2 separate regions of the Homo sapiens genome follow, and region 2 is linked to region 1. Evidence: fine-mapped expression QTL. A gene starts in region 1. The other region holds a variant in brackets. All regions are shown on one strand. Distances are from middle to middle.

Evidence for each region. PIP is the estimated chance that this variant, and not a neighbour inherited with it, causes the effect. A credible set is the group of variants that fine-mapping cannot tell apart.
Region 2: its variant is the best candidate, but not a certain one, in a credible set for the expression of BOK in subcutaneous fat (TwinsUK, PIP 0.70).

What each region holds. Positions count from the first base shown.
Region 1 is chr2:241,556,122-241,561,495 of GRCh38, reverse strand. It overlaps BOK (BCL2 family apoptosis regulator BOK), which reads right to left and starts at 2,751. Exons shown (of 5, transcript NM_032515.5): 1 at 2,503-2,751; 2 at 1,793-2,041. The coding sequence starts at 2,012. It overlaps BOK-AS1 (BOK antisense RNA 1), which reads left to right and starts at 2,353. Exons shown (of 2, transcript NR_033346.1): 1 at 2,353-2,719. RefSeq lists silencers at 1,729-1,858, 1,909-1,978, 2,009-2,088.
Region 2 is chr2:241,527,835-241,533,208 of GRCh38, reverse strand. No RefSeq gene overlaps it. Among named protein-coding and RNA genes, the nearest start is that of STK25, 22 kb to the right of the region's middle. The variant G/A (reference allele first, on the strand shown) is at 2,813.

The sequences.
Region 1 (5,374 bases):
GGCTGGGCCCCTGTCCTGGGCCACCCGCACTGCCACGCTCCCACCTGGGCTGGCTGGGCCGCTGTCCTGGGCCACCCTCACTGCCACGCTCCCACCTGGGCTCTTGCTGCCAAGGGGATGTGCTTGGAGGTGGCACTGCATCAGCCCTGCCCCTGGCAGCCGAGGATGGCCCCTACAGGCCCACCGCCCCAGTGCTGCCTGTGGCACCCTTGGCAGCAGCAGCGCACAGGCACGGGGCAGATGGTGCCGAGAATGCCACAGGGCCCTGGGATTGGGAGTCCGCAGCCCGGCCAGTTCTCCAGCCAAAGCAAACAGGGTAATGCTGCTGACCGGACCATCCCAGCTGATAAAGGCTGCTCTGTATCTCATTAATTAAGATCTGGAAGCAGAGCAGAGCCCATGAGAGGCTGGCTGGGGGCGGGGGACGACATGGAAATTCCCAGGACTGACCCGGCAGCTCCCAAACACAGATCTCCGGGGCTGCTGCAGGCTGGCCCCAGACTGAAGGTGGGGACACAACCCGGGCTTCTTCCTGTCTGCACTGCCCAAGGGCAGGGAGACAGCGCTGGCCTCAAGGGACTGACCCTGAGCAGCCGTGAGGGCAGATGCAGGTCTGAGCTGTGTCCCTCTGGGGTCCCCCTAGACATCTGGGACTTCTTCCCAGCCATTCCAGGGGTCTGGCATCATCTTTTCAGAAGGCCACTAAAAGGATCCCCTAGGGTCATTCTCAGAGCCCGACTAGAGGCAGCAGCAGGCGGCGGATCTCATGGAGCCCCACCAACCCCCTAGCTCCCACCCAGAGACCTCTCCCTCCTTCTGAACTTCTCAGATGGGACTCCACCTCCTCCTGGAGGCTCTGTGCTGGTCCCCATGGATTCTGTCTGCACCCCACACACACTCCTGGGCAGGCCAGGTCTACACAGCTTTGCTCTCTGGGCCCAGCCCACCACGTAAGGGCAGGGGCCACCTAGAGCCCATGCCAGCGCCAGCCTGAGAGGAGGCAGCGTGTCCCCTCACGGGGTCGTGCCCTCCGACTCCAACCCCCTGCCTGGAGAGCCACCGATTCAGTTTCACCTATGCTGTCACCTCCCCTTCCCGGGCTCAGCCACAGGCGCCCCATGTGCCCTCTTCGGGCATCACATAAACATTCCCAGGTGACGGCCACAGCCCAGCTGTGGTGAGGGGACTGGACAGTCACAGTGGGGCTGGTCCCTCCCTCTTGGGTCCAGACCTTGGAGACGGTGGGGGCAGCCAGTGGACCGTGTGTGACCCCAGAACCGAGCACCCCCAGATGTCCTCACAGCACCAACGAATACTGAGGTTTTGGCTACCCAGCCCGGTGGGCGCAGTTTCCAATGGGGGGGCCTCGGAGGCCTCGGAATCCAGAGGGCAGCGGGCGGGATCTCGGCCAGTAACAGCAAGAATCTGTTTTCCAAAATAAACATCGGGACACGTGCTCCTACAAAGGGTTTCTGTGCCCAGCTGAGAACAAGGGTCACTGTGGAAGCTTAGCCACCCACTAATAGATTATTCTTTCTGGAGCTTTCTATTGTTTATGGCCAGCATGACTGAAATCTGGGCTGAGCAGGCAGCTGATGGGGGGGCCTGTGGCGTGGGAGGCCTGAGAGGGCAGATCCGGGAGCACCCGCCTGGGTGGCCCTGTCCCGAGCGCCTGGCCGTCCCAGGCAGGGGGTGGGCGCCCCTGGGCCGGACCCCCATCTCGGCCTCGGAGGGAGGCTGCGGCCCAGCAGGGGAGGAGGCGCAGCTGGGGATCCCACCAGGGCGCACTCACCCAGGCGCAGCAGCACCGCGCACACCTCAGCCAGGCGTCCCGGGACCGGCGCGGCACGCTCGGGCGCGCTCCAGGAGAGGCCGGCGCGCAGCAGCCGCGCGTGCACGTACTCCCGGCCCAGCGCCTTGGCCTGGGCCACCAGCTCCTTGTCTGTGGGCGAGCGGTCAAAGGCGTCCATGATCTCGGCGGCGAAGACCGAGGAGCGCCGCAGCACCTCCATGGCGGCGACGCGGGTGGGGGGCGCCGCACCTGCGGGCACAAGCGCTCAGCCGGGTGGAGGGAGGCGGCGCGGGGAACGGGGCGCGCGGGGCGCCGGGCTGGGCGTGGCCCTCGGGAAGGGCCGTAGCCGGCGCCGGGTCCGCTCTCGTTTTTTGTGCCCCAAATCTTTAAAAACCCAGCGCCACCTTCTTTCAGAGCCCGAATTCAGCTACAGACATTCCCCGAGGCTGCCAGGGACCGGTGGGGCCGCGGGGAGACGGCGGTTTGCTCCGGGGCCGCCGGGCCCGCCCTCGAAGACGAGTGCGTGGGCGGCGGGGGCGGAGGGCACAGCCCAGCGCGTCCCCCACGGCGACTGCCAGGACCCGGCCCTCCCCGCCCCGGCCCGGGGCCGCCCACCTCCGCCGCTGGCGTCCTGCGCGCGTGTCCCCGGCCTCGCCGTTCCCGTGGCACCCCGGGCACCCCGGCACGGACGCCACGCCCGCCGCGCTCACCTCTCCCGCCGCATGGCGCGGGCGCCGGGGTGGAGTTCTGGCTTCAGGATCTGCTCGCCGCCGACGACGACCTCGACCCTTCCATTCAGACCCGCGAGGACGCGCGCCCCGCCCCGGCGCCCGCCCCGTCCACGCCCGAGCCGGGAGCGCCAGGTCCACGGGGCTTCCCGCGCTCTTGGGGGGCTCCTGCCGCGGCGTCGGGGGCCTGGGCAGCGAGGTGGGCAGCGCGCGACTCCCAGCTGGCGAGAGGCTGGGCTTGGGGCTTGGCCTTCTAAGGGAAAGGCAACCCTGGGGGCGGAGTCGGGGAGACGCTTTCCGAGCTTCCCCGCTTAAGGAGGACCGAGCGAGTTCCCTGGATGCGCCCGGAGAAGGCGACCAGGCCGGAGCGGCCCCCGCAAGGCAGAGCAGTGGGGACCTAGAGCCAGCCCCAGCCGCCTGGGTGTTCCCCGGGGTCCATTTGAAAATTGGGTTGTCTTCTTCGTTCGTAGAGGTTCTTTCCAGAGTCTGGAGACGTGTTCTTGGTCCGGACGCATGCCCTTTGTATTGTAGATGGATTATTGGATTCGCATTTATTGAAGTTATTGCAAATATCTTCCTCTATTTTGTGGTTTACTTTTGCTTTGGATGAACAGGAGTTACTCTTAGTGATGTCCAATTTATCAATATTTTCTTTATGGTTAGTACCTTTTTATTGGGATATCCTCCTGTATTTCCTTTTAGAAGCTTGTTTTAGGGCTCATATTTAGATCTATGATTGATTACATATTAATTATTGTGAATGGTGTGGTACGGGGCTAGAGCTCATTTTTTTTCGTGTAGATATCCAATTGACCTGGCATCATTTATTGAAAAGCATCATTTTTTTTCCACCGAATTGGAGGAGTCCCCAACATCTCAACATAAATCAGCTGAAGAGTGTGTGTGTGTGTGTGTGTGTGTCTCGGAACTCTATCCCACTGGTTTATTTCTTTATCCTTGAATCAACCTCACACAGTTTGAACAATAGGATTAACCAACTTGGCCTAATTCACGTGTGTACAACACTATAAAATACTTATTCTTCCCATGTGCACATAGGATGTTTATCGAAATAGACCATATCATGGACCTTATACAAGTCTCAGCAAATCTCAACGGATTGAAATCTTACAGTGTGTCCTCTCTGAATTAAAAGTCAATAACAGAAAAATTACTGGAAAATCTGCAAATGCTTGGAAATTACATGTCACACTTCTAAATAATCAATGGGTCAATAATCACAGTGGAAGATTAAAATATGTTGACAAGAACAGTGAAAAATAAGACATATCAAATGCTGTACAGTGCAACTAAAACACTGCTTAGAGGAAATTTGATAGCTTTAGAAGAAGGATTGAAAATTAGGCCAGGTGAAATGACTCAGACCTGTAATCCCAGCATTTTGGGAGGCCTAGGTGGGCAGATCACCTGAGCTCAGGAGTTTGAGACCAGCCGGGTCAAAATGGTGAAAACCCCGTCTCTACTAGAGATACAAAAAATGAGTTGGGTGTGGTGGCAGGTGTCTGTAATCCCAGCTACTAAGGAGGCTGAGGCAGGAGAATTGCTTGAACCTGGGAGGCGAAGGTTGCAGTGAGCAGAGATCATCCCACCTGCACTCCAGCCTGGACAACAGAGTGTGATTCCATCTCAAAAAAAAAAAAAAAAAAGGAAAAAGAAAAATAAAATTACTGCTCTAAGCTTCCACTCAAGAAGCTAGAAAAGAACAATAAAACTAAAGATGAAAGGAAATAATAAAAATAAGAGCAGAAATTAATGGAATAAAGCAAAAAATAGAGAAAATCAACAAAGCCAAAAATTGGTTCTTTGAAGAGATTAATAGAACTGATAAATCCCCAGAAAGATTGAGTAAGAAAAAAGATAACACAAATTTCACTATCAAGAATGAAAAAGAGGACATCACTGTAGATACTACAAGCATTAAAGGGATAAAAAGATAGTATGGAGGACTTTTTGACAGTGCATTTGAAATTTTAGATGATACACAACTTACCAAAACTGACACTAAAAGAAATAGAAAATCTGGATAGTCCTACACCAATTAAATGCATTGAATCTGTAATTTAAAATCTTCCCACAAAGAAAATTCTAGGTTCAGATGGTTTCATTGAGAAATTCTTCTCAACAGTTAAAAAAATACCACCAGTCTCATACAAACCTGCACAGAGACTAAAAATGAGGGAGTATTTCCCAACTCATTTTATGAGGTCAATGTAATTTTAATACCGAAACCTGTCAGGAACATTACCAGAAGCTAGGAAAGCTATGGAACTTCTATCTGCTATGACTTTCCTGTCTGGGAAGTAGGAAGAATAATAATACCTACCTCCTAGGATTGTTGAGAGGACTGAATTCTTTTTTTTTTTTTTTTTTTTTGAGACGGAGTCTCGCTCTGTTGCCAGGCTGGAGTGCAATGGCGTAAACTCGGCTCACTGCAACCCCGCCTCCTGGGCTCCAGCGATTCTCCTGCCTCAGCCTCCCGAGTAGCTGGGACTACAGGCACCTGACACCACGCCCGGCTAATTGTTTGTATTTTTGGTAGAGAGGGGGTTTCACCATGTTGGCCAGGATGGTCTCGATCTCTTGACCTCGTGATCTACCTGCCTTGGCATCACAAAGTTCTGGGATTATAGGCGTAAGCCACAGCGCCCAGCCTGGGAGGACTGAATTCTTAATCCATGTCATGTAGTAAGTGCTCAGTCATTGTTAGCTGCTTTTTCAGAAAAGCTGTAGTACAGTAAAATCTGAGGGTGCATTTTAATGAACTCTTTAATGTAGAGTCTAGAGCTCCTTGGACAGTGTGCGCCTCAGATTTCTGAAGAGCAGTCAGGTTTGG
Region 2 (5,374 bases), 28 kb after region 1:
CCTGGCTGCAGCACCTCTCAGCCATGGCCTCCTGGAACCCCTCAAGGGACAGTGAGTGAAGGGGCTGGGGAGCTGATGGTGGCCTTCCAGAAGCAGCTGCCGAACGGACGGACCGGCGGAGCTGATGATGGCCTTCCAGAAGCAGCTGCTGAGCGGACGGACCGGTGGGACCCATTGGAGGCTCCGTCACGGGGCCCTGGCTGGAGTCACACCTGGAGGTCTGCAAAAGGGCAAGGTCCTCATCCGTGAGGCCTACAGCCAAATGTGCAGCCCAGGGCAGTGACAGAGCTGCTGCCACCCTGCGGCCGTGCCCCTCTGACTTGGGGGTTTGTACTGGAGGGGTGGCTTGCCCAGTCGTGGCACTCCGGTGGGACTGAGGCTGAACTTGCTTTGGCGTGGTGGGTCAGCTGGCTCTGGGCCCTCAGCTCCCCCGGGCGAGGCAGCCCTGCTTGTTGTCTCCACATCTCCTCTTCCCTCCGTTTCCGTGGCCCCTGGTTGGAGGGTGGTGCTCACCCATCCTGGGGGCTTTGCCCTCCTCCAGCCCCTCCCCAAGGCCAAGCTGCAGCTTCTGCAGGAGACGGGGCTGGGGGCCTGGTGGGGTGTCCTTAGACACCCTGGGGTATGGGACTTTCCAGGAAGATGTGCCACCATCACACCACTGTACCCCAACTTGAGGGAGTGTGCAGTCTGATAAAGACCACCTGGGCTTGCGGGAGAGGAGGTGGGCTTCCCACAGAAGCCAAGAAGCCCACGAGCCTTGCCACCTACTGCCAAGCGCAGGAGAAGGGCGCTGAGGAACAGGGAGGTGGCACCGGGTCCAAAGGCCAGTTTGTGGCCTCCACAGACTGGAGGCTCGATATCCTCCGCTGCTCCGTTGCAGGGGCAAAAAGAGAGTTAAGAGACAAGGAAACAGGTGTGGAGGGATGGAAGTGTGAACCAATGGTATGCAGTTGCTCTTGGGAAATCCTATGTACAGATAGGAAATCTGGACACTGACTCCATATGGGATGACATTTAGGAATTATTAATTTAAAAGCTTTCATTTAAAAATTAACATACAGGGCCGGGCATGGTGGCTCACGCCTGTAATCCCAGCATTTTGGAAGGCTGAGGAGGGCGCATCATTTGAGGTCAGGAGTTTGAGATCAGCCTGGCCAACATGGTGAGACCCCATCTCTACTAAAAATATAAAAATTAGCGAGTATGATGGTGCATGCCTGTAATCCCAGCTACTCGGGAGGCTGAGGCAGAACTGCTTGAACCTGGGAGATGGAGGCTGCAGTGAGCCAAGAGCATGCCACTGTGCTCCATCCTGGGCTTCAGAGTGAGACTCCGTCTCAAAAATAAATAAAATAAAACAAAATTAACGTACAGCAGAACGGACTTTTTTAGTGTGGAGTTCTAGCAATGTTCCTGCCTGTATGGGTTTGTGCGATGCTCCCCTCTGCACACACCATCCACACGCAGCGTGATCCCATCACCCCAGAAAGCCCCTCATGGCGCTCCTCTGCAGGACCAGGCTTCCTGACCCCTGGAAGCCGCCGGTTACTTCTCCATGGCTTGTGTCCTTTTGACAACATTGGACAAATGGAATCATAGCCAGATGTGGTGGCTAGAGCCTGTAATCCCAGCCACTCTGGAGGCTGAGGCGGGAGGATCACTCCAGTCCAGGAGCTGGAGATCAGCCTGGGCAACACAGTGAGACCCTGTCTCAAAAAACTAATCATACATAATAATAAGTAAATGGAATCCTACAGTATGTAATGTTTGAGGCTGGCTTCTTTCTCTCCAACGTGCCTCCAAGGCTCACCCTTTCCACTCGGGAGCGTGATCTGCTGCATGCGTGCCCCGCAGCCTGGCCGCTGCTCACTTGATCAGATCTTGAAGGACGTCTGTGTCATTTCCAGGTTCTGGCTGTCACAAGCAGTCATGCTCTAGACATTTATGTATGGGTTTTCGTGTGAGGACAGGTTTCCGTTTCTCCAGGATAAACACCTGGTAGTGAGAATGCTCAATATTCAGTTTGTAGGTAACTGCCTGGCTGTTGTCCAGAGTGGCCACACTATCTCGCATGGCCACTGTCCCAACGTGTGAGCTCCAGATGCTGCCCGTGCTCGCCCAGAGTGACCAATCACTGCACTTTGTCCGGGTCTGAGGAGTTTCCTGGGATTTGAGACTTTCCATGCAAAAATCAGGAAACTCCTGGACAAACTAGGACATGGGTCACCTTTCTCTTTGATGGTTAATTTTACGTCAGCTCGACTGGGCTGAGGGATGCCTGGATGCTGGGGAGACACTGTTTCTGAGGGTGTCTGTGAAGGGGTTTCTGGAGGAGATGAGCATTTGAGCCTCCTACTTAGTAAACTGGATCTGCCCTCACCATGCAGGCAGCCAGCATCCAATCCACTCAGGGCTCGGGTAGAACAAAAAGGCAAGGGAGGGTGAATTTTCTCTCCGAGCTGGGACCTCCATCTTCTCCTGCCCGCAGCATCAGCCCACCGGTTCCTGGGCCTTCGGACCTGGACTGGGTCAGACTGCTGGCTTTCCTGGTGTGCCAGCTTGCAGACAACACTGTGGGACTTCTCAGCCTCCGTTTGGATGAGTCAATTCCTATAATAAATCTCTCTCTCTCTCTGTCTCCACCCCATATAGATATAGATACAGAGAGACAGATACATAGATAGATACAGATATATCTCCTGTTGGTCAGTTTCTATGGAGAACCCTGACTTATATACTTGTCAACACTTGGTATTATCAGTGGTTTGTTAAATTTTAGCCATTCTAATTGTTGTGTAGTTGGGATCTCATC[G/A]TGGTCTTAGTTTGCGTTTCCCTGGGGGCTAAAGGTGTTGAGCAGCTGTTCATGTGTCTCTTAGCCACTTGTAGGCCTCCTTTGATGGAGTGTCTATTCCAATCTCTTCTCAATTTTTTTCTTATTGGGTTGTTGGTTGTTTTTTTTTTTTTTTTTTCTTTGAGACGGAGTCTCGTTTGTATCACCCAGGCTGGAGTGCAGTGGCTCAATCTCGGCTCACTGCAACCTCTGCCTCCCGGGTTCAAGCAATTCTCCTGTCTCAGCCCCCTGAGTAGCTGGGATTACAGGCACACGCCACCACACCTGGCTAATTTTTGTATTTTTAGTAGAGACAGGGTTTCACCATGTTGGCCAGGCTGGTCTTGAACTCCTGACCTCAGGTGATCCACCTGCCTTGGCCTCCCAAACTGCTGGGACTACAGGCGTGAGCCATCATGCCTGGCCTTGATTTTCTTACTGTTGAGCTTTGGGAGTTCTTTATACATTTTTGAGACATATCCTTTGATGGATATGTGACGTGTCATTTTTTTTCTCCCAGTCTTTAGTTAATTTTAGTTTTTTTGAGACAGAGTCTCACTCTGTCACCCAGGCTGGAGTGCAGTGGCACAATCTCAGCTCACTGCAACCTCTGCCTCCCAGGTTCAACTGATTCTCCTGCCTCAGCCTCCCAAGTAGCTGAGACTACAGGTGCCCGCCACCATGCCTAGCTAATTTTTGTTTTTTTTAGTAGAGATGGGGTTTTATCATGTTGGCCAGGCTGGTCTCGAACTCCTGATCTCAAGTGATCCGCCTGCCTCAGCCTCCCAAAGTGCTAGGGTTACAGGCGTGAGCCACTGCACCTGGACTAGTTTGTCTTTTGTCTTAACAGTGTCTTTCTCAAAACAAAACTTAAAAATGTTCATAAAGTCCAATTTATCACTACTTTTTTATGGTAAAATATACATAATGTAAAATGTACCATGTTAACCATTGTTTTTGAGACGGAGTCTTGCTCTGTCGCCCAGGCTGGATTGCAGTGGTGCCATCTCCGCTCACCCACGTGCCACCACACCCAGTTAATTTTTGTATTTTTAGTAGAGATGAGGTTTCACCTTGTTGGCCAGGCTGGTCTCGAACTCCTGATCTCGTGATCTGCCTGCCTCAGCCTCCCAAAGTGCTGGGATTACAGGTGTAATTACAGTTTGCAGTGGTGCGATCTCCGCTCACCCGCGTGCCACCACACCCAACCTACGTTAACCATTTTTAAGTGTACAGTGGCGTTAAGTAAATTCACAATGTTGTGTCACTATCACCACTATCTAGTTCCCGAACTTTTTCATCACCCCAAACAGAAGCTCTGTACTCATTCAGCAGCATCTGCTGGTCCCCTCCCCACGTAACTTTGATTCCACTTTCTGTTGCTGTGAACTTGCCTATTCCTGCTGCTAGTATAAGTGGAATCGCACAATGTTTGGCCTTTTGTGTTTGGCTTATTTCACTCAGCATGTTTCCAAGGTTCATCTATGCTGTAGCATGCATCTGAGCATTATTAATTATATTACATTATATTATATTGTACGTATGTATTTATTTATTTTGAGATGGAGTCTTGCTTTATCACCCAGGCTGGAGTGGAGTGGTGCCATCTCAGCTCACTGCAACGTCTGCCTCCCGGGTTTGAGCGATTTCACCTGCCTCAGCCTCCCAAGTAGCTAGGACCACAGGCTTGTGCCACCATGCCCGGCTTTTTGTTTGTTTATTTGTTTTTTGAGACAGTATCTCATTCTGTTGCCCAGACTGGAATGACTGCTCACCACAACCTCCACCTCTCAGGCTCAAGAGATTCTCCTGCCTCAGCCTCCCTAGTAGCTGGGATTACAGGCGTGTGCCACCATGTCCAGCTAATTTTTGTGTTTTTAGTAGAGATGGGGTTTCACCATGTTGGCCAGGCTGGTCTCGAACTCCTGTCCTCAAGTGATCTGCCCACCTTTGCCTCCCAAAGTGCTGGGATTACAGGTGTGAGCCACCCGGCCCAGCCTATTATATTTAACTGTGGTAAAGTACACATAACATAAATGTTACCATCTTAACCATTTTTGTACAGTTCAATGGCGTTATGTTTACATTGTTGCGCAACCAGTCTCCAGAAGTCTTTTCATCTTTCAGAACTGAAACCCTTTATCCATTAAAGAACAGCTTCCCAGCCCCCTCCCAGCCCCTCGCAACCACCTTTCTGCTTTTTGTTTCTATGAATTTGACTAGATTTCCTCATATAAAAGGAATCAATCATGCAGCATTTGTCCCTTTGTGACTGGCTTATTTCACTGAGCATAAAGTCCTTTCGGTTTATCCATGTTGTGGTCAGGAATTCTGTCCTTTTAAGGCTAATAATATTCCAGTGCATGGATAGGCCACATTTTATATATCCATTCGTTGATGGACTTCGGGTTTTTCCCCACCTCTTGGCTATTGCGCATAATGCTGCTATGAACATGGAATACAAATATCTCTTTAAAGGGGCCGGGTGCAGTGTCTCATGCCTGTAATCCCAGCACTTTGGGAGGCCAAGGCAGGAGTATTGCT